Linked DNA regions of Homo sapiens: region 1 is linked to region 2. Evidence: fine-mapped expression QTL. Tissue or cell type: whole blood. Region 2 holds a variant in brackets; the other region holds the start of a gene. All regions are shown on one strand. Distances are from middle to middle. Region 1 holds the start of DOCK5 (dedicator of cytokinesis 5). Region 2 overlaps DOCK5 (dedicator of cytokinesis 5).

What was found. PIP is the estimated chance that this variant, and not a neighbour inherited with it, causes the effect.
Region 1: it holds the start of DOCK5, and the variant in region 2 is fine-mapped to the expression of DOCK5 in whole blood (TOPMed, PIP 0.93).

Annotation. Positions count from the first base shown.
Region 1 is chr8:25,179,500-25,189,657 of GRCh38, forward strand. It overlaps DOCK5 (dedicator of cytokinesis 5), which reads left to right and starts at 5,190. Exons shown (of 52, transcript NM_024940.8): 1 at 5,190-5,452. The coding sequence starts at 5,410. LOC124901912 (a long non-coding RNA gene) reads right to left here and starts at 4,878. Exons shown (of 2, transcript XR_007060861.1): 1 at 1,318-4,878; 2 at 1-545. RefSeq lists silencers at 5,008-5,087, 5,098-5,267, 5,438-5,487.
Region 2 is chr8:25,201,076-25,211,233 of GRCh38, forward strand. All of the region lies in intron 1 of DOCK5 (dedicator of cytokinesis 5), which reads left to right. Among named protein-coding and RNA genes, the nearest start is that of DOCK5, 21 kb to the left of the region's middle. The variant C/T (reference allele first, on the strand shown) is at 4,158.

The sequences.
Region 1 (10,158 bases), 22 kb before region 2:
CTTCTTACTGCTCACATCATCCACCTCTCCCAACAGTGGAATCAGCTCATTTAGACACAGCAAAGAACATTCCAGAAACAACACTAGAAAAAAGAATTTTCCCATGTTCATGAAAAGGGTAAATCATAAGTATAAATCTCCTTGTGACAGAGATGAGGAGATAATAGCATTGGAGCCCCGAGCATTATCTTCCCATCCATCAGAGAAGCCGGACCCCCACAGCCACATGGCAGAGCCTGTGCAGACTCAGAGATGCTCACGACCTAAGTCACTTGCAGAGTGGAGAGTGAATAATGATGTTGGAATCCCTGGGGCCTATGAAAAGGTACTTCTGGGACTAGGGTGATTCATGGTTTCCTTTGTCCTGCTAAGCTCATGGGTCCCAGAATTACAATGTATCACCTACTCCTGGCTTACTTAGAACCATCCTTAGGAGCCTGCAAAGCACTGCTTAGAACCAATTACATTATTTGCATTGTTATCATTTTTTTGGTAGTTCCATTAGCCACTGACTCGTATAGGATCACAGAATAATCTTCTTTTATCTAGAGAGAGAGAGAAAAAAGACACTTTAAACGACTCCACAGCATCTCATAGAGAAGCCATCAGACCAGCCTGATTTGGCAAAAACAAGCCTGGTAATCAACAGGGAGGTGAGGCTCTTGCCAGTTCTCTTCACATCCTGTCCATTTATTCTCTAAGGCATTGTAAGGGTTAGTCACAATACTCATGTCAAACTAACCCTCAAAGCCACTTACCCTCATTTCTTTCTCCATGGCTCCTTCAAGCAGAGCCTGTGAGTGTCTGTGCGTGCTTAAGTGTGTTTGTATTTGTGTGGGTTTTGGAGTCTGAAGATCTCTGTGGAATATGCTTAATGTTTCTTCTGAAAAGATATCAGAGGAAAAAAAAAGGGTATTTCTGGGCATCACGCTGTCATTCCAACTGCCTGTCTGGTTAACTGTCTAATTTTAAGCCTCATTCTAATAAAAGACTTTGAAAAGCTCTGCTTTTATGATTTAAAAGGACATTCACACTAGGATTTAGCCATCTGATATAGCAAAGTGAGTGGATTTCAGTTTTCAAAAGGAAATGATAAACATACTGAAAGCTGTAATTAAAATTTTCCATTTTCCTCCAACTCTCTTAAAGCCATTGTCAAATTTGAAATCTCTGGCACCCAAATTCAAACCTCTAGTTTTGGAAGAAGAAGACTTCAATGCAAAAGTGGGATGAGGCAGTTGAAATCGCTTTGGTAGAAACCCAGTTCCACTGGATAAGAGCATTAACATTCTGATGTATGGTACATTTGAAATATACCTTTGGTCAGAGAACAGAGGTCATCCAATTTCCCTAAGCACGGAGAATTCATGTAACTTTGAGAAGCCCTGAGTCCACAACAGGCAAGTCATATAATCCAGTGCAGAGCGCTTTAGCTCCTAAGGGGCCACATGGAGAAGTTGCTGAGGAAGGCGTGAAGAAGTGGGTCCTAAAGAAATATTGAAAGGAAAACTTTGATACAGAGCAACTGGGACAGGAAAGGGTGAAGACAAGATAGATATAAATGGTGACCAAGACAATGGCAACTCTACTCCCTTGCTATTCAAGCCCCAAACCTTAGAGTCACTCTTTTTGTTTTGAATTAATATTTGTTTAGAGACAGGGTCTTGCTATGTTGTCCAAGCTGAAATGCAGTGCCAATTCACAGGTGCCATCCCATTATTGATCAGAAGGGGAGCTCAAGAGAGGGTGCCACCTGGAGCCTGAGGCAGTTCAAATGTGAAGTCCCGGCTACGGGATCTTTGTCAATAATGCAGTCAGTGACAGAGAAAAGACAAGGATGCATCCAGTTGCTTTCTACACAGGGATGCTCTCTGGGCTGCTGGCTGGTTGGAAAAGGGAGGTCTTGGGGTAGATTTCCCCCTGGATATGTGGGCCTGAATTTCTTCAGCTAAGGAGGAGTACCGAAGTTTTGGGATATAGGACTTCCAAATTAGGGCTTTCCAAATAATTGACCCGCTCCATTTCTGACCTGGACCAGTTCACCCCTCCTTAGGCAACCTGGTGGTCGCCTGCTCCCAGGATGTCACTATATTGATGCGGAACTTAGTGCAGACACCTGATCAGCATAGCTCACTGCAGCCTGGAACTCCTGGGCTCAAGCAATCCTCTTGCCTCAGCCTCCCTAGCAGCTGGGACTACAGGCATGTGCGACCTAGCTGGCTTTAGAGTCATTCTTGACCCAGCTTGTATCTCACATGCAGGGACAAGAACCAAGGTGTGTGGGGCCTGAAGGGTGTACGATACGGGTAGGGCTCTTTAAAAAAAAAAAGAAAAATACAAGCATATCTCTTTCTGGGGGAAAACTTTCCAAAAAAGATTGAAGCCTCACAGTAGTAGATCCCCCTGCCGTTCATGTGGCCCTCCTCTTGGTTCTTTTTCATGCTGTGATGCAATCATAGCTCACTGCTAGCCTCGACCTCCTGGGCTCAAGCAATCCTCCCACCTCAGTCTCCTGAGTAGATAGGGCCACAGGCACAGCCACCATGCCCAGGATATATATATAGTAGAGGAGGGTCTCACTATGTTGTCCAGGCTGATTTTGAACTCCTGACCTTAAGCAATCCTCCCACCTCAGCCTCCCAAAATGCTGGGATTACAGGTGTGAGCCACCACATCTGGCCAGGCTCTATTTTCACGTATGTCAAGAACCCAACATCTTTTTCACCTCCATCCTTATCCTCCTGGACCCAACTACCTTCATGTCTTGCCTGAATGACTGAAATAGCCCCCAACATCCATCCATGTGGGCCTCCCTTGCCCCTTTACAATGGATTCATACCACAGCAGGCAAGTTCAATATGTTCCAGGTTGGCTCAAAGCCCTCCAAACCTCGCTTGTAGTAGTAATATATAAAGTCCATATGCCTGCCAGGGTTCTGCTCTATCTGGCATTCCTCTGCCTCTTAGACCAAGTTTCCTCTCACCTGTTACTCAGCTCTCATTACCTAGGATCTCTGGGTGACCTGGGAACCTGCCAAACACGCTTGGTGTCCTTTGCCTTTGCTGTTCCTCTTTTCCAGAATACTTTCTCCCGGAATCTTCACTTCCTTCAGGTCTACACCTCAACCTCAGCTTAGCAGAGCTGCATTCCCAGACCACTCCATAAAAACAGCAGCACCCTACACGCCCTATCCTCCCTGCTTTGGATTTTTCTCTAATGTTTACTCTCGTTTGGTGTACATTTCTTTACTGTCTTACTCTCCCCGTCTAGACTAGAAGCTCTGTGAAGGGACACATTCTACTGTATTCACCGCTGCACCCTCATTCTTAGAGTGATGCCTGGCACTTAACGTGTAGGCATTTAATATGTGTGTGAAGAAGGAAGAAGAAATTACCTAACCTGGGAAATTAGAATCATGATATACTAATGGAGGAAGATAAATTATTTTAGGGAAGATGGTGGAATTCTTTCTGGATGTCAAGTCTAAAGTGACAGAGGAATTTCTTAAATTATTGTTAAACATTGTGAATAAATACCTATTGGTTGATGGAGAAAAAAAAAGCCAGCTCTAGTAGTTACCCACCGTGAATAGGACTTAAAAAAAATTTCAGACCTCGTTTGGTAAAAAACCACCAAAGTTAAAATGCACTAATTCTCCAATGAAACTTTACTATCTTGTTACCTTGTTTGCCTATCTATCTTTACTGTCTTTTTTTTTTTTTTTTTTTTTTAGACGGAGTTTTGCCCTGTTGCCCAGGCTGGAGTGCAGTGGCGCGATCTCGGCTCACTTATAGCCTCTGCCTCCCGGGTTCCAGCGATTCTCCTGCCTCAGCCTCCTGGGTAGCTGGGATTACATGAGCACACCAGCACGTCTGGCTAACTTTTGTATTTTAGTAGAGAAGGGGTTTCACCATGTTGGCCAGGCTGGTCTGGAACTCGTGACCTCAGGTGATCCACCCGCCTCGGCCTCCCAAAGTGCTGAGATTACAGGCATGAGCCACCACGCCTGGCCAACTACCTGTCTTTACTATCTTTACTACATGTTTGTCTTCCTTTCTTTTATATTCCTAAAACGCATGAAAACCTTCACAGGCTGCAAGGAGGATATAATTTCTCTCTAGAGGAATCTTCTTCGAAGGTGAACGTAATTAAGCTGGTCATTTACTCTACTTGCAATGTTACTTCTCGGTACAAGGTAGGGAGAAACCCCTGGATCTTCATTCTCCAAGTCTCTCCAGGAAGAAATGAATTCCAAGAGGGGAGCTCCAGAGAGGGCGCCACCTGGAGCCCAAGGCGGTTCAAATGCGCAGCCCCTTTGGGATCTTCGTCAAGAAAAGGCAGTCGTTGACGGAGAAAAGACGGGGATGCGCCTTGGCCCTTTCTCCACGGGAATGCTCTCTGGGCTGCTGGCTGGTTGGGAAAGGGAGGTCTGGGCATGAGGGTCTAAGTTTCTTCAGCTTAAGGTTGGGGGGTCCCCGGAGTTTGGGGATACAGGACTTCCAAATTAGGGCTTTCTAAACAATTTCCCTGCAGAGGATCCCCTAGCAAACGGTCTGATACTTCTGAGGAGCCCACCTCCCTTGCACCAGCTCTCCGGTGATAAAAGTTCTGCTTTCCAGGCTCTAAGCGGTGGCCCCGGGAGATTCAGTCTGCCCTGAGTCCGGCTTCTCCCGCTCGCGGCGCGGGTTCAAGCTCCAGGGGGTGAAGGCAGAAGTCAACTGCTCATTCATTCAACAAATATTTATTGCGCGCCCGCTTAGTGCCAGGCACCGGAGGTGCCCCGAGCAAGAAGCCGCTCTCGCTGATCCGTTTCCGCTCCCCAAGTGTCCGGCGCGCGCCGTGGGAGCGCAGCCCGCATCCCTCGCCCACCGGCCGCCCGGCCTGGGCGTGCCCGGCTCCTCCAGCGCAGCCCTCTGTCGGGAGCCGGACCCCCGGGACCCAGCCTCCGGGGTATCAGCCGGGTGGGGAGGGCGGGAGAAAGGCAAAGTGCCGCCAGCGTCAAAGTCCCGCCGGCCCAGGAAGCCGCTCCAGGGAAGCGCGCGAGGCGGAGCCGCAGTCGGCCCCCGCCCGGCAGAGCGCAGAGAGCGGCGCGGGCGGGAGAGGCCGGGCGCCCGCGGCTCGGAGGCGGCCCCGGCGGGCGGAGGGTGCGGCCGGCGGGAGGGACTGGGGCGGCGCCAGGAGGGGCGCGCACTGCTGCGCTGCAGCCCGGCCCAGCAGGTGACCGCGGGCGGCGCGGGCACGGGCACGGGCGCGGGCGGCGCGGCGAGGAGGCGGCCCGCGGAGTCCAGCGAAGTTTGGCGGAACATGGCGGAAGCGTCTGGGGCACGCAGGAGCGCGGGGCGGCGGCGGCCGGAGCCCGAGGAGCTGTAGCAGCCTTAGTCGCCGCCGCCGCGGGGCGAGGTCGCCGCCATGGCCCGCTGGATCCCGACCAAGAGGCAGAAGTACGGGGTTGGTGAGTGCGCGCCCCACCTTGTCCCGGCCCGACCCACGCGGCCAAGTTCGCGGACAGCGGCCCTGCCAGGTTTGCGCAGAGCCCGGCGGAGGACCCTGGCCGGGGGCTCGGCCCGGCTGCGCAGCTCTGGGAGCCGGGGACGGTAGGAGTCCTCTCCAGGGAGCGCCGATGGGGAAGTCGCCCAGGGTTTGGGGACTCCGAGTGCTTCCAAGTGCAGCTGAGCTTCGGGACCGTAATCCCGCTCTTGCATCCCAATCTCCGGCACTTCACACCAGGGAAATGTCAACGCGAGGGGGGCGCGCCTGCTGCTCTTTTGGGGCCGCAGCTCTGTGGCTCGCCCCGGTGCGCCCAGCGTGGGTTTCACCTGGGAGTAGGTGACCAGCCCGGGTCGGCACATGGACTGGTGCTCATTGTCCCAGTGCTTTCTGCCCCCCGCTTTCGTAGGTTCTTCTCAGACGCCCCTTAAGTGAGGAGTTGAGGGTGGAAAGCCGCCCTGCCCCCTTTCCTCCAGAGACTGGGATCTTGATGACAGTTGTGAGCTGGATGGAAACTAGAGTCGTGGCGTGGAAGTGATGGAAGGGACAGGAAGTTGTGGCACGGGAAGGGGGTGGCTGGCCCCTGGGGCTGTTTGTGCGCACTCATCCCCTAACGGAGCCTGTCTGGAGAGGGTGTAAGGCTGCCTTCCGGATCCTGAGTTTCATCCTGGAGACGAGAAGAGGACATTTTATTAAGGAAACTGTGCCAGACCCCGTGCTGGGCACTTGGCATTCAGAACAGCGGTGCTGGAGAGCCCCGGGTTGTGCGCAGGGGTTGCTGGTGGTGGTGCTTTGGCTCCGAAACAATAGATGTGCGGGGATTTTGACCCAGGTGGAAAGTCAGGCTCCTTTGGCTTTTTATCAAGGATTGAAGTTATTGAGGGCCTGTGGGAAGACTTCTGCCCTGAACGGGGTGATTACAATGGCAGTTAGACCTGGGGTGATTCCCTACAATAAACACGGCTGAGTGTGTTGCGAATTTTATCACTTCCTCTCAGATCCATTCATTTGGCCTGTTTGTAATTTAGTCTTTGACTTTACTCCCTTACTGAGGTCCTGTTTTTCCTCACCTCACTGGTTAATGAAGTGCAGTCTCAATTAAGAGCTACTCAACGTGTCTAGGGGCTTTTCAACTCTGTAGCCAGGAGTCAGGGTTTTTTGTTGTTGTTTGTTTTGTTTTTTAACAGTCTCATATTTACTATATTATTCTTAGGTTGTGATCCTTTATATATTTATTATTTTTTGTTTTCCCTCAATTCAAAAGACATTTTCTTTTTTGCTCTTAAGTTGCTTTTAGAATCTTAGTCTCTCCCTTAGCTGCATCTCAGAAATGGGTAGAGATGTTGCTTCTGCCTCAGGGCTCTTTTTTTTTTTTTTTTTGGTTTGTTTGTTTTTGAGACGGACTGACGAGGGAGTCTCACTCTGTCGCCCAGGCCGGAGTGCAGTGGCGCAATCTCGGCTCACTGCAAGCTCCACCTCTAGGTTCCAGCAATTCTCCTGTCTCAGCCCCCCTCCCCGAGTAGCTGGGATTACGGGCTTGCATCACTACACCTGACTAATTTTTGTATTTTTAGTAGAAACCAGGTTTCGCCATCTGGGCCAGGCTGGTCTCAAACTCCTGACCTCAGGTGATCCGCCTGCCTCGGCCTCCCAAAGTGTTGGGATTACAGTCATGAGCCACCTCACCTGGCCCCTAGATGAAAGCATATTTACAATGCCCAATCACTACAGAAATGTTATCAACTCTAATTTTATCAGGATTAAAAGCTCTTTTCAAAACTATTCAGTTGAGGGTAATTAATGCAAACATGTTTCAAAAATGTGGTTTTTATTGCCATAGTCCTAGGAGCAAGTATAATTGTTTTTAATATTTTGTTTTTATGTTCTGGAGTCAGTTTACTGTGTCACTTATCAGTCAAGAAAAATATTTGGGCCAGGTGCGATGGCTCACGTCTGTAATCCCAACAATTTGGGTGGCAGAGGCAGGAGGATTGCTTGAGCCCAGGAGTTCAAAACTAGCATAGCAACATGGCAAACGGGTCTTTACAATAAATACGAAAAAAATTTAGCCGGGCATGGTCGCCTGTGCCTGTGGTTCTAGCTACTGAGGAGGCTGAGGTGGGAGGATAGCTTGAGCCTGGGAGGTTGAGGGTGCACCGAGCCCCCATCACGACACTGCACTCCAGCCTGGGTGATACTGTGAGACCCGATCTCAAAAAAAAAACTATATATACATATATATACGTATATATATATATACACACACACACACACGTATACACACACATATATGTATATATGTATATACATATATATGTATATATGCGTATATGTGTGTGTGTGTATATATATATGTATATGGAAATATGGGTGGAAATTGTGTGTGTGTGTGTGTGTGTGTGTGTGTGTGTAAAATATTTGGATTGCATTTCCAGGGCCTAGGTGTTAGGGAAACTGCTCCAGGATATAATTCTGAACACTTATTTCACCAGACATAGATTCTGGTTTGTCTGGGTTTGACAAAAGGACCCACAGTTGGGATAAATTAACTGAAGAGAGAAATCTCCATTGCTTATTGCTAAAACTCATTGTTTTTGTCACCTCCTTGCTTATGTTTATGTCACCTCCCTGCTTGGAAGTCTCTCGTGGTCAACAGGATAAAGTCTGAGCCTCCGTTCCAAGGTTCCTATAATCTGGTTCAGCCTATCTTCAGCATTATCTCTCGAGGCTTCTTTCACTAGCTCTCCAATGCAGACCAACTGCCCTTCCCACTGTTGTGCAACATACCCTGCAGAGTCCCTCCTTTGGGACTTTGCTCCCATTGTGCCTGTCCCTGCCAGGAGTGCCCTCCCAACTCTGCCTCAGACAGCTCACCTTTCCTTGAGGGCTCAAATCCATTCCTACTCCCTTCTTCAAATTTGCTATTTGTCAGACTGTCCCAAACCTCCTTGCTTCTTCCTCGCAGTTCCTGGACTGTGCCATCCTTGGGTTCAGTGAATCAGACCATTGTGGTTTTGTATTCCTAGCACTCAACAGGTGTACCAGGTATTAGTGCATTCAGTTTGCTTGTCCTTGATGTTGGGGTGCCGTTCTAAAGTACACTAACCTAGCTTGTCTGGTAATTGAATGCAGTTTTTTCCTCTTCTTTTTCTTCCCATTAGGCATAACATCTCATTCACCCCAATATGAGTTGAATTTTGTTTGGTTAGATGGAGGAAGGGAGAGCCTCCACTCTGTCTTTATCTCTGCAAGTAAGAGAATGAGATATTCTGCTGAGAAAACAAGGAAGCATGGAGCAGACAGACTTTCTTAAATATAGTTGGGAAAATTGGCTTTCTGGACTTCTCTAAGTGTGTACTGGTCAGATTTGGTTTCTGGATGAAGGAACCGTAGGATAGTCATGTTGAAGCATTTGGATGACTCAGAGCTAGCTATGACTTTGCCTGTTGTGCTCTAAGAGGAGTGTGCCTCTGCAGAGCTAGTCTGTGTGAGGATAGAGCTTTGGACTCAGTATGAATTGTGCCTGCTGAAGCTGGCAGTCGCTACTGTCATATTTTATCTTGGTGCCACTCTTGGCTGTTCCTGACATATCCTAGATGTTTCTACAGGGACTGAAATGCAGCCTGTCTGGGCTTTCTTAGTTCTTAAACAGCAGTGTTGGCTCAGGCTCTAGCATTAAGTGGATCTCAATGGTTTCTGTGTGTTATCAAGTGAAGTGACTGATCTATTTGATTCTTTAAACTTATGGTGCTCTAGTACCCCAGTGTTAAGTGCTCAGTGGCTAAGTGTTCTTCCCTGGAGACGTGGAAAATGTGCTTTTTTCTCATCTTTTTTCTTTCTTTGTTTCTCTTTTCTCTCTCTTTTTTCTGTTTGAGCATATGAAGATATAAAACACTTTTAAGCAAACATTAGTGATAAATATCCAGAATAGTCTGATTATAAAAACATTTATTTTTAAGTTTGCTTCCACACAAGCCATTATGTAAAGAATAGCCCCAGATTAGGTTGACTATGGATTCTTTGCAAAGCTTTTTTTTCTTTTCTTTTCTTTCTTTCTTTCTTTTTTTTTTTTTTTTTTTTGAGACAGGGCCTCACTCCACAGCCCAGACTAGAGTACAGTATGATCATAGCTCACTGCAACCTGCCATCTCAGCCTTCCAAGTTGCTGGAACTGCAGGTGTGCACCACCATGCCTGGCTTAAGTTTTTTGATTTTTTAAGTTTTAAAATATTAAACTTTTAAAATAATCATTTTAAAGATGGAGTCTTTCTATATTGTCCAGGCTGATCTGGAACTCTTGGCCTCGTGTGCTCCTTCAGCCTTAAGCCTCCCATGTTGCTAGGATTACAGGGGTGAGCCATGAGCCTGGCTGATTTTTTTTTCTTTTCTTCTGAGACAGGGTCTCGTTCTGTAACCCAGGATAGAGTGCAGTGGCAAAATCATGGCTCACTGCTGCCTCAACTTCCTGGGCTCAAGTGACCCTCCAGCCTCAGCCCGCTGAGAGCTGAGAGCTACAGGTGCGTGCCACCACAACCAGTTGATTTTTGTATTTTTTGTAGGGATGGAGTTTCACCATGTTGCCCAGGCTGGTCTGGAACTCCTAGGCTCAAGCAGTCCTTCTGCCTCAGCCTCCCAAAGTGCTGGGATTACAGGCATGAGCCACCACACCCA
Region 2 (10,158 bases):
TTTGAATTTTTAGTAGAGACAGGGTTTCACCATTTTGGTCAGGCTGGTCTCAAACTCCTGACCTCAGGTGATCCGCCCACCTCGGCCTCCCAAAATGCTGGGATTACAGGCGTGAGCCACTGTGGCCGGCCTAAATGGCTATTTCATGGTGAATAAACCATTAGCCTCAGGCTTCGTCTCCTCTCTCTGTTTGAAGACAATAAAGTATGATGTAATTGTATTATTTTGATAAGGTAATATTTAGTCCCATGACATACAAAACACTAGTAGCATTACATAAAACAAAGTATTTCAATAGTGAAAGAGAACATTTATATACAATTATTTCTATAGTCTAACAGTATCACTAACATTACATGCCTTTTAAAAAATATGTTTGAGTTACTGAAGAAGATTGAGATACAGATGTTGACTTGTTTAGGGCAACAGGTTAAGCTAACTTTAGAACGCTGATTACTACCTTTAGTCCTGCAGGCTGTGGAGCCGGGCAGCCAAGCCATGCTTGAAATCAGAATCGTCAAGGTGGATGCAAGAGCCATTGGCTGCAGAGTGAGGTTTTGGAGAGTAGTTGCTTGTGGCTGGGATTTTTGAAGTCCAAGTCTCCTAACTTTTATTACTCTTTACCTTGTGAAGTCATATAAGGCTCTAAGTCAAGTAAGACGGAAGGAATAAGATTAGCACACTTCCTGGTACAGTGGGCAGTACGTGATAGCTATCTGAAAGTTTGCTCAGTCGCAGCCTCCCTGACAGTACCCTAGCCTGGCAATCAGGTGCCTTTGTTTGCAGAGTGGGGCTGATTACCAAGTAGTTAATACTGGTTGGCTCAGAACCTGTCCTCAAAGTTCAGAATAGATTTGAGTATATTTTTGATTTTAGAGCCTTATGGCCAGAAATGGCCTTATCTTGCAAGAATCTTCCTGGGAAAAAAACATATATATATATATTTTTTTCTTCTCTTTGAGACAGAGTCTCGCTCTGTCACCCAGGCTGGAGCGCAGTGGCACAATCGTGGCTCACTGCAATCTCTGCCTCCCGGGTTCACGCGATTCTCCTGCCTCAGCCTCCCCAAGTAGCTGTGACTACAGGCATGCACCACCACCCCCAGCTAATTTTTGTATTTTTAGAAGAGATAGGGTTTTGCCATGTTGGCCAGGCTGGTCTCGAACTCCTGTCCTCAAGCGATCCACCTGCCTCGGCCTCCCAAACTGTTGGCATTACAGGTGTGAGCCACCGCACCCACCCCTGGAAAATATTTGAATTCCCAGGGATCTCTGGGTGATGGGACTGTTACTTTCTTCTGATCCTGTGCTTTTGGGGTGGTACTCACTCACTGGCTTAGAACAGCCTGGAATCCTAAGAGGAATGGATGAATGAATGAATTCACACACAACAAACTAACGGAAATGTTTTGAGTCACGCCACCTTGCGTGTGAATCCCCTTACTGTGGCTAACCCACCTCACTGTTCTGAGGAAGCCCATGTTCACTGAGCACCTTTTATGTTCCAGGGTCTTGCTGGGCTGGATGGTGGTGAGGATCACACAGTAGTCCCGCCTTATCCTCAAGGCATGCTTGAAACCACGGATAGTACCCAAGCTTGTATATACAATGCTGCTTCTATACAAATATATTTATGATAAAGCTGAATTTCTAAATTAGGCACAGTAAGAGGTTATCAACAATAACTAATAATAAAAAAGAACAATCAACACAATATGCCAGTATTACCACTCTTGCACTTTGGGGCCATGATTAAGTAAAATAAGGGTGACTTGAACACCAGCACTGCAATACCCCGGCAGTTTGTTTTTGAATTTTTTTATTTAATATTTTTGGACCTTGAGTACCTGAAGCCACAGAAGGTGACACAGGGGACACTAGGAGACTACTGTGTAAGATAAAGAGTCTATAGAAACACACATAGAAGCAGTAGGCAGGGATTCATAATGGCTGCTTTCCTTTTCTTTAGCTTGATAAGAGTGCTACCAAATACATCTCCAGTGTCATGAATTCATGGATGTGTGACCAGTAGCTCTTGGCCAGCCATTTCTGGTCTTAACACCCAGATCATCATAGAATATGAGGATAGGAATCCACTGATGACAGAATCCTGAATGACTATCTTATGTGCCTGAAAGCCTGCCTCAAAGAAGGCTGATGTCTTCTTGAATTAAAGAGTTGCTTGCATATAGAATATACTGGAGTCATTTTTCAGAAGATCCTTACATGGCTTGGCAGAGGGTGGCATCCAGTTTATCTTTGGCGGAATTAGATTTGCTGCTCAAGATTGTTTTCAAATTGTTTGATAGCTTCAGGGAGGTCCACTGGTAAGCTCACAAATTCAGAAATAGTTTGAGGCTACAGAAGAATTCTTTTCATGTTTGAGCTGTGATCTAAGCCAAGAGCCTTGGAAATTTTGAATCCGTCTTATATTTTCTTTCCTGAATGAGAAATGGGTATACTTGCTCAGTTCCGATTCTGACAACATGACTTATTTCAAAAACAAATAGCTCACTCCGTGAAGCAAACCCTGTATCACTCTCCTCTGGTGACATTTCGATTCTGATACAATGTGGTGGCATGGGGATAGATTTTAGACCAGGAAAAGAGAGAGCCTCTCATTTGTGGCCCAAAAGACTCAATTTTAAAGATCAGATTGGAATCTGTCAGGGAGGACATATGGACATAGTGATTTTTTCTTTTATTTGCCTTTTTTCGCCTCTCTTTACTTTTGGTTTAATGTCTTTTAGGACTTGAGGTACAAAATCCCATGTTGTGGAGGCATTAGCTAACAGTTGTAAAACCTTAGGAAAAGTACAGCATCTCAGTGATCCTGCCTTCCTAAAATTGCTCCTCAACAAATACAGATGGAGGAAATAGAAATATCTAAAATGAAACGTGTTCTTTCGTCTTAGATGTCTTTATCTTCTTGCTTTTATCAGCAGCCTTGAGTGACAGGATTTTATACTTTTGGAAGATTAGAGGGTTTGTTTGTTTTTCTTGCAGAAATAGTTACTTATACCATGTTCATTTATCTGCCTCAGTTCTGAGAATTCTTTGCCAATTTTTTTAATAGCATGTGTTTGGATGAATTATAGACTTCATAGAAGTAACTTCAGGAATTATCGACTTCATAGTCGATACAACATAATGAGACCCTGTCTGTACTTTAACTTTTTAATACAAGAAATTTTTTAAAATTTTAGGGGCATTTAGGTTTTTGGGGGATAGTGCATGGAGTGAAACTAACAGAAGTATTGATCCCAGGATTAGGAAGTTGGGTTTGTATTTCAGTCTCTGTTACAGGAGTGACCAAGTGGCTTGACTCTCTTTAGCTTAGTTTTTCCATCTGCAAAACAGAGATAATATTTTCTATTACCTTCTAGATTCTCAGAGTGTGATGAATTTTCAGTTGTTGAAAATTTCTGCAAATGAATTAAGCGATGCCTGTTAGGCCACATTAATGGACTAAAAACTGCTAGGATCTAAAGTTGACATGCCATTGAACTTTCTGCCTGAAGACTTACTGAGGAAACTTTGTCTACAAAGGTTTGGTGCAAAGAACCCCATTACTTTATGGCCAAATTTTCTTCACATGCCGATGGTAATCCAGTAGTCTTTCTTCTAACTTCTTGGCGGCTTTCATATACTCTTCAGACTGGCTAAGTCATACGTTAATAGGAAGAACTAATTTTCTCTCCCTGAGGCTGAACTTGTGATCTTTTTCATCTGGTTTCCACTTCTCAGATTTCCCCAAATCTCTCAGTCGTCTTTCCCAAAGTATTTAAAGGAAGATTGATTTTAACAGAGTGCTATGGACTGAATTATGTCCCTCACAAATTCCTATGTTGAAGCCTCAGCCCCTAGTGTGATGGTATTTGGAGATGGGTCCTGGGAGATAATTAGGTTTAGATGAGTTCATGGTGGGGCCCTCATGAGGGGATTAGTGCTTTTTTTAAAAAAAATTATTTTTAAAAATGTCTTTTATTAAAAAGTTAATTAAAGTACAGACAGGGTCTCATTATGTTGGCCAGGTTGGTCTTGAACTCCTGGCCTCAAGCAATCCTCCCACCTCAGCCTCCCAAAATGCTTGGATTACAGGTGTCAGCCCCTGTGCCTGGTCTCTTCTTTTATGTGGAGAGCGCTCTCCCTCTCTCT[C/T]GCTCTTGCTGTCTCTCACTCTCTCTCCCTCTGTCTCTCTCTTTCTGTCTTTCTCTTTCTCTCTCTATGCTATGTGAGGATACAATGAGAGGGTGGCCACCTATAAGCCGGGAAGAGAGCCCTCACCGGAAACTGACCATGATGGTAACTTGATCTTGGACTTCCAGCCCCCAGAGCTGTTAGAAAACACATTTCTGTTATTTAAGCCACATGGTGTGTGGTATTTTGTTATGGCAGCCTAAGCTGACTGAGACACAGGGAGTTGCGTGTTATTTGAAATACGAGTCCACTGTTGCCAGATCAAAGTTCAATCTCTGTAGTTTAATCCTAGATTTTTCCCTCCTCTTTTACAGGGATTTGAATCTAGTGAAAGTAATTCACATGCACATCAGATACATGCCTTTAGCAGCCTTCTGGCCTTGAAAATCCTGCTGTTGCTGATTCAGTTGTCAGGGCCCAAATCAGCTGGTGAACTCATGAGTTTGCAGGTCTAGAATTGTAGGTGTGGGAAGGGGAGAGAGACATGGGTTACTGAAGACTTGTGCAAATAAATGCTGTGTTCATCTTCACCGATTCACCAGGTATCTGAGTAGGAGGTATGCACTTAGCACTTGGAATACTCAGAGATAATGCCATTGCACACTTAATTGATACTTCTCCTAACACTTAAGAGAAGTGGACATAGATTCTGTTTGTGGGAAGTTTATAATGAATTAAAAGACCCCAAGTATAAAGCCATAAATAACTCCAGGGAAAGGAAGGCTGAACATGAAAAAAGTTGCAAAAAAAGTCCAGTTGGGGTTATTGGAGTTTAGAGAAGCAGAGATTATTCTAATTGAGGGAGTTGAGGAAGCTTCAGGGAAGTAGTTGAACTTTATAGAGATGGACATCAGGTTTGGGAAGGCTGGGGACCTGGCACAGCGTGAGCCCTGGCCCTAACGCAGTTATTTGTGGCAAGTGGATAATGAGGAAGTTGTCCATTCTTGCTGAAGCAAAGGGTGGGTAAAGTGGAAAAGAGGGAAATGATATAGATTTTGTCAGATTATGGGGAGACTTGTTTACCTTGATTTTTTTTCTTCCTCTTTAACCATTCATGCTGCAATAGTGTGCTGGTAAACTAGCTCTGTAGAGTGGGAGGAAAAAACTTGAGTTTGTAGCATTCACCAATATCTGTGGTGTAAATACTCCCACAGTGGCCAATTTCAGACCAGCAGTGGATTAAGAGATAGCTCACAGAATTCCTGAAAATTCCTGAAAATGTAACAGTTGGCCCTTCCAAACTAGTACAAGTTTGCTCCAGTATTCTGTGAAAAACCTGGGCTAGTTCCTACATGACAAATAGTTACAGTACCTGCCTGCCCACAGCCTGGATAGAAGACCCAGGGAAGGCCTAGGTAGCCTCGTTTTACACCATCTAAGATTCCTGTGGCCATCACTGATTGTCCCTGGATGGACACACTACCTAGAGGCCATTCCGTAGCCTGGACAATGACATATGGTTTGACGCAAAGAAGTAAGTACTCAATCAGGTTCCTTCTCTTGGGAATTTGAATGAGGAAATACCAATATGTTTTGCCACAGGGGCAAAAGCTAAAAGGATGTCGTTTGGGAGTTGAGTTGGTGGCAACCTGAAGCCATGTGGAAGCCAATGTTGTGAATGGAAACCACAAGGAAACTGAAAAAGCTGATTGATAGAGAGAGGGGAGCAGATGTGGAGAGACCCTACAGCCCTAGAGTGGCCCCTGTTCTTAGCAGCTTTCCAAGTCCAGGTCTAAAACATCCCTTTTCTGAGGCAATTTGAGTGAGTCTCTGTTCCTTGCAATACCGTGGCATCACTGAAGAAGTTTATGTGGCAACTCAGGGTACTTTGCAGAGCTTTCTATGAATGCAGACATACCTCCTTCTATATAGCACATCACTTTATTGATCGACCATAAGATTCATGGTCGATCAATAAAGCAATGGTTCATGAAGTTTGATGAAAGAAGTTTAATAAAAGAAGCCATTGCCATAGCATAGAAGTGCAAGGTGAGGCAGCAAGTGCTGATATAGAAGCTGTGGCAAGTTATCCAGAAGATCTAGTGAAGATATTGATGAAAGTGGCTACACTAACAACATATTTTAAGTGTAGATGAAATAGCCTTCTATTGTAAGAAGATGCTGTCTAGTACTTTCATAGCTAGAGAGGAGAAGTCAGTGACGGGCATCAAAGGATAGGCTGACCCTCTTGTTAGGGGCTAATGCAGCTGGTGACTTTAAATTGAAACCAGTGCTCTTTCACCATTCTGAAAAATCTGAGGGCCCTTAACAATTATGCTAAATCTACTCTGCCTGTGCTCTATAAATGGAACAGCAAAGTCTGGATGACAGTACATCTGTTGACAGCATGGTTTACTGACTATTTTAAGCCTACTGTTGAGACCTACAGCTGAGAAAAAGAAGATTCCTTGATTCAAAATATTACTGCCCATTGACAATGCACCAGGTCACCCAAGAGCTTAGATGGAGATGGACAAGGAGATTAATGTTTTCATGCCTGCTGACACAACATGAATACTGCAGCCCATGGATCAAGGGATAATTTTGACTTTCAAGTCTGATTATTTAAAAGAATACATTTCATGAAATGGTGGCTGCCATAAATAGTGATTACGCTGATGGTTCTAGGTGTAGTACATTAAAAACCTTCTGGAAAGGATTCCCCATTCTAAATGCCACTAAGAATATTGATGTTTCATGGGAGGAGGTCAAAATATCAATATTAGTAGGAGTGTGGAAGAAATTGATTCCAATTCTCATGGATGACTTTGAGGGGTTCAAAACTTCAGTGAAGGATGTCCCTGCAGATGTTGTGGAAATAGCAAGAGCACTAGAATTAGAAGTGGAGCCTGAAGATGTGAGAATTGCTGCAATCTCTTGATAAAACTTGAGCAGAGAAGAGTTACTTTTTATGAATGAGCAAAGAAAGTGGTTTCTTGAGATGGACTCTATCTTGGTGAAGATGCTGTGAACATTGTTGACAACCAAGGATTTAGAATAATCCATAAACTTGTTGACAAAGCAGTGGAAAGGTTTGAGAGGATTGACTCCAAATTTGAAAGAAGTTATACTGTGGGTGAAATACTATGAAATGCTATCAAATAGCATCACATGCTATAGAGAAATATTTCATGAAAGGAAGTATCAATTGATCTGGCAAACTTAATTGCTGTCTTATTTTAAGAAATTGCCACAGCTGCCCCAGTCTTCAGCAACTGCCACCCTGATCCATGAGCTGCTATCAATATCAAAGCAAGACCCTTCACCAGCCAAAAAATTAAGAGTCCTTGAAGGCTCAGATGATCATATGCATTTTTTTAGCAATAAAATATTTTCAAATTAAGGTCTGTACATTTTTTAGACATAATGCTATTACACACTTAATTGACTGTAGTGTAAACATAACTTTTATAGGCACAGGGGAACCGAAAAATTTGTGTGATTGGCTTTACTGCAATATTTGCTTTATTGCACAGTCTGGAACCAAATCCACAGTATCTCCTAGGTATGCCTATATAGCAAATTTCTTAAGAATAGAGGACAAATCACTTGCTTCTGATTGAGGTTAAAATATGCCCATGACCTTCATTTCTTTGCCTTCCCTCCCTCCCTGCACTCCTCCCAAATGACTTGTGAATATTATTTTTTCATTCTTTTTCATTCCAGCAGAGCTGGTTTGGAATTCATGATGTTGAAAGAATAGCCAGTAGGAACATGTGGTGGGGTGATGTTTTGTTGGCATTTACCATTACAGAAAATCACAAGAAAATTGGAGCCATTAGCAGCAGGGAAAGGAAAATGAGTTCTTTATCTGCTGAGGGCATCTGGTGAGGGAGGGTCTGTGAAGATGCCGCGGGTGCACTGCTCTAGTATGAAATGCCATTTGAAGGAGGCTCAGAGCACATTAGCGCCGTCATCCCTGTCTGATGTTCTCACCACACGCAAGTTCGTGAATAATTAAATTGTTAGGAAGGGGAAAGTCATGCATGGCGGGTCTTGCCCGAGGCTCAGGCAGACACACAATGAGGTCGCTACTCTGGGAGCCCAGTGGTCCAGGATGCCAGTCTGGCAGTGCCAGGGAAGGATGCTTCCTTTCAATAAGCGAACATTGTGAGGGAGCGGGGTGGAGGCAAGAGACCGCTTAGAAATCAGCACATGTGAATTCTGCTTCAAACTCTGCCACTAACCAGCTATTTGACCTTCCAGAAGTTGCTTCTTCATCTATAATGAAGGATGATGCCAAGAGGATTTTAACTTTTTGAGAAATAAAGCTCCTTTGAGACTGTAATGAAAGCTGTGGATTCTTTCCACAGAAAATGGTGCATATGTCTGTCGATGACATTTCACATACAACTTTAGGAAGTTTAGAAATCTTTGGGGACTCAAGGATCCCAGCTTAAGAAGAAGTCTTGCATGAGATGATGTCTGAACTTTTTTTGTATCTCTACAATTGCATTTTTCTGAGACTTTGGATCTTGGAAGGAACCTAGAATGTCAGCTGGGCTCTCACTTCTACTCTCAACAAGAGGCAAGCCTGCCCTGCCAGCATTTCGTGCAGAAGGCGCAAGCAACATGGGAGCCTCCTGTGTTTTCCTCAAAAGACACCATACTTCTTTTTCATTAGAGACAGGGTCTCAGCCTCGCTCTGTTGCCTAGAGTGCAGTGGCGCCATGATCCTCCCCCCTCAGTCTCTTGAGCTGCTGGGACTACAGGCACATGCCACCATCCCCGGCTAATTATATATATATATATATATATATATAAATGTGTGTGTGTGTGTGTGTGTGTGTGTGTGTGTATCTGTCTATTTATCTATCTATCTATCTATCTATCTATCTATCTATCTATCTATCTATCTATCTATCGAGTAGAGATGGGGCCTTGCTATTTTGTCCAGGCTAGTCTTGAACTCTTGGCCTCAAGCGATCCTCCTGCCTTGGGCTCCCAAAGTGCTGAGATTACAGGCATGAGACACTGCATCTGGCCCTCTATAACCTCTTGATGTGTGCATTCTAAGCGGGAAGAAACAGACAGCAAATGCACAGTATGTATAGCATGATGTCAGTGATCAGGGCTTTGAAAATATTGATGAAGCACAGTGATGCCATAGACAGTGATGGGGTGAGGTGCTGTTGTCGAGTTGGGATGGTCAGATAACGGCTCTGTGGAGGGGATATGTGGGAAAAGATGTGAATAAAAGAGGGATTGGGACCGGGCGCTGTGGCTCACACCTGTCATCCCAGCATTTTGGGAGGCCAAGGTGGATGGATCAGTTGAGGCCAAGAGTTCAAGACAAGCCTGCCCAACATGGAGAAACCCCATCTCTACTGAAAAATACAAAAATTAGCCAAGTGTGGTGACACATGCCTGTAATCCCAGCTACTTGGGAGGCTGAGGCATGAGAATTGCTTGAGCCTGGGAGGCAGAGGTTGCAGTGAGCTGAGGTGGCACCACTGCACTCCAGCCTAGGCGACAGATCAAGACTGTCTCCAAAACAAAAAAGAGGGACTGAGCCATGCAAATCTAAAGTAAGAACATTCTAGGCAGAAGATGTGGCACAGTTAAGGAGCAGTGGAAAGTGCCAATGTTCCTGGAGCTGAATGAGGGGAGGGGGAAGGGAGGAGGGAGAGGTGGGAGACAGGTTGAGAGACTGGCAGAGCTGAGGTTGGGGTAGTTCTTTGTCTACTGGAAACACAATTATCTGTACTCAAATGACATCTAATAATAATGGTTATTGATAAGCCACCCATTCATTTCATAGGCTTGGTTCATTACCAGCAATGGGCTGCTTTAATAAGACAGTGGTCCTCAAACCTCCTTCTGTCAACAGCACCTGGATAGCCTGCTTTGCAGAGTACCATTGGAATCAGATATCCCTGTCTTTAAGGAACTTACAGTACAGCAGAGGGGACAGGATGGTGTCTCCATTATTTTGTGCACATGGGAGAATTGCTGTGTCTCA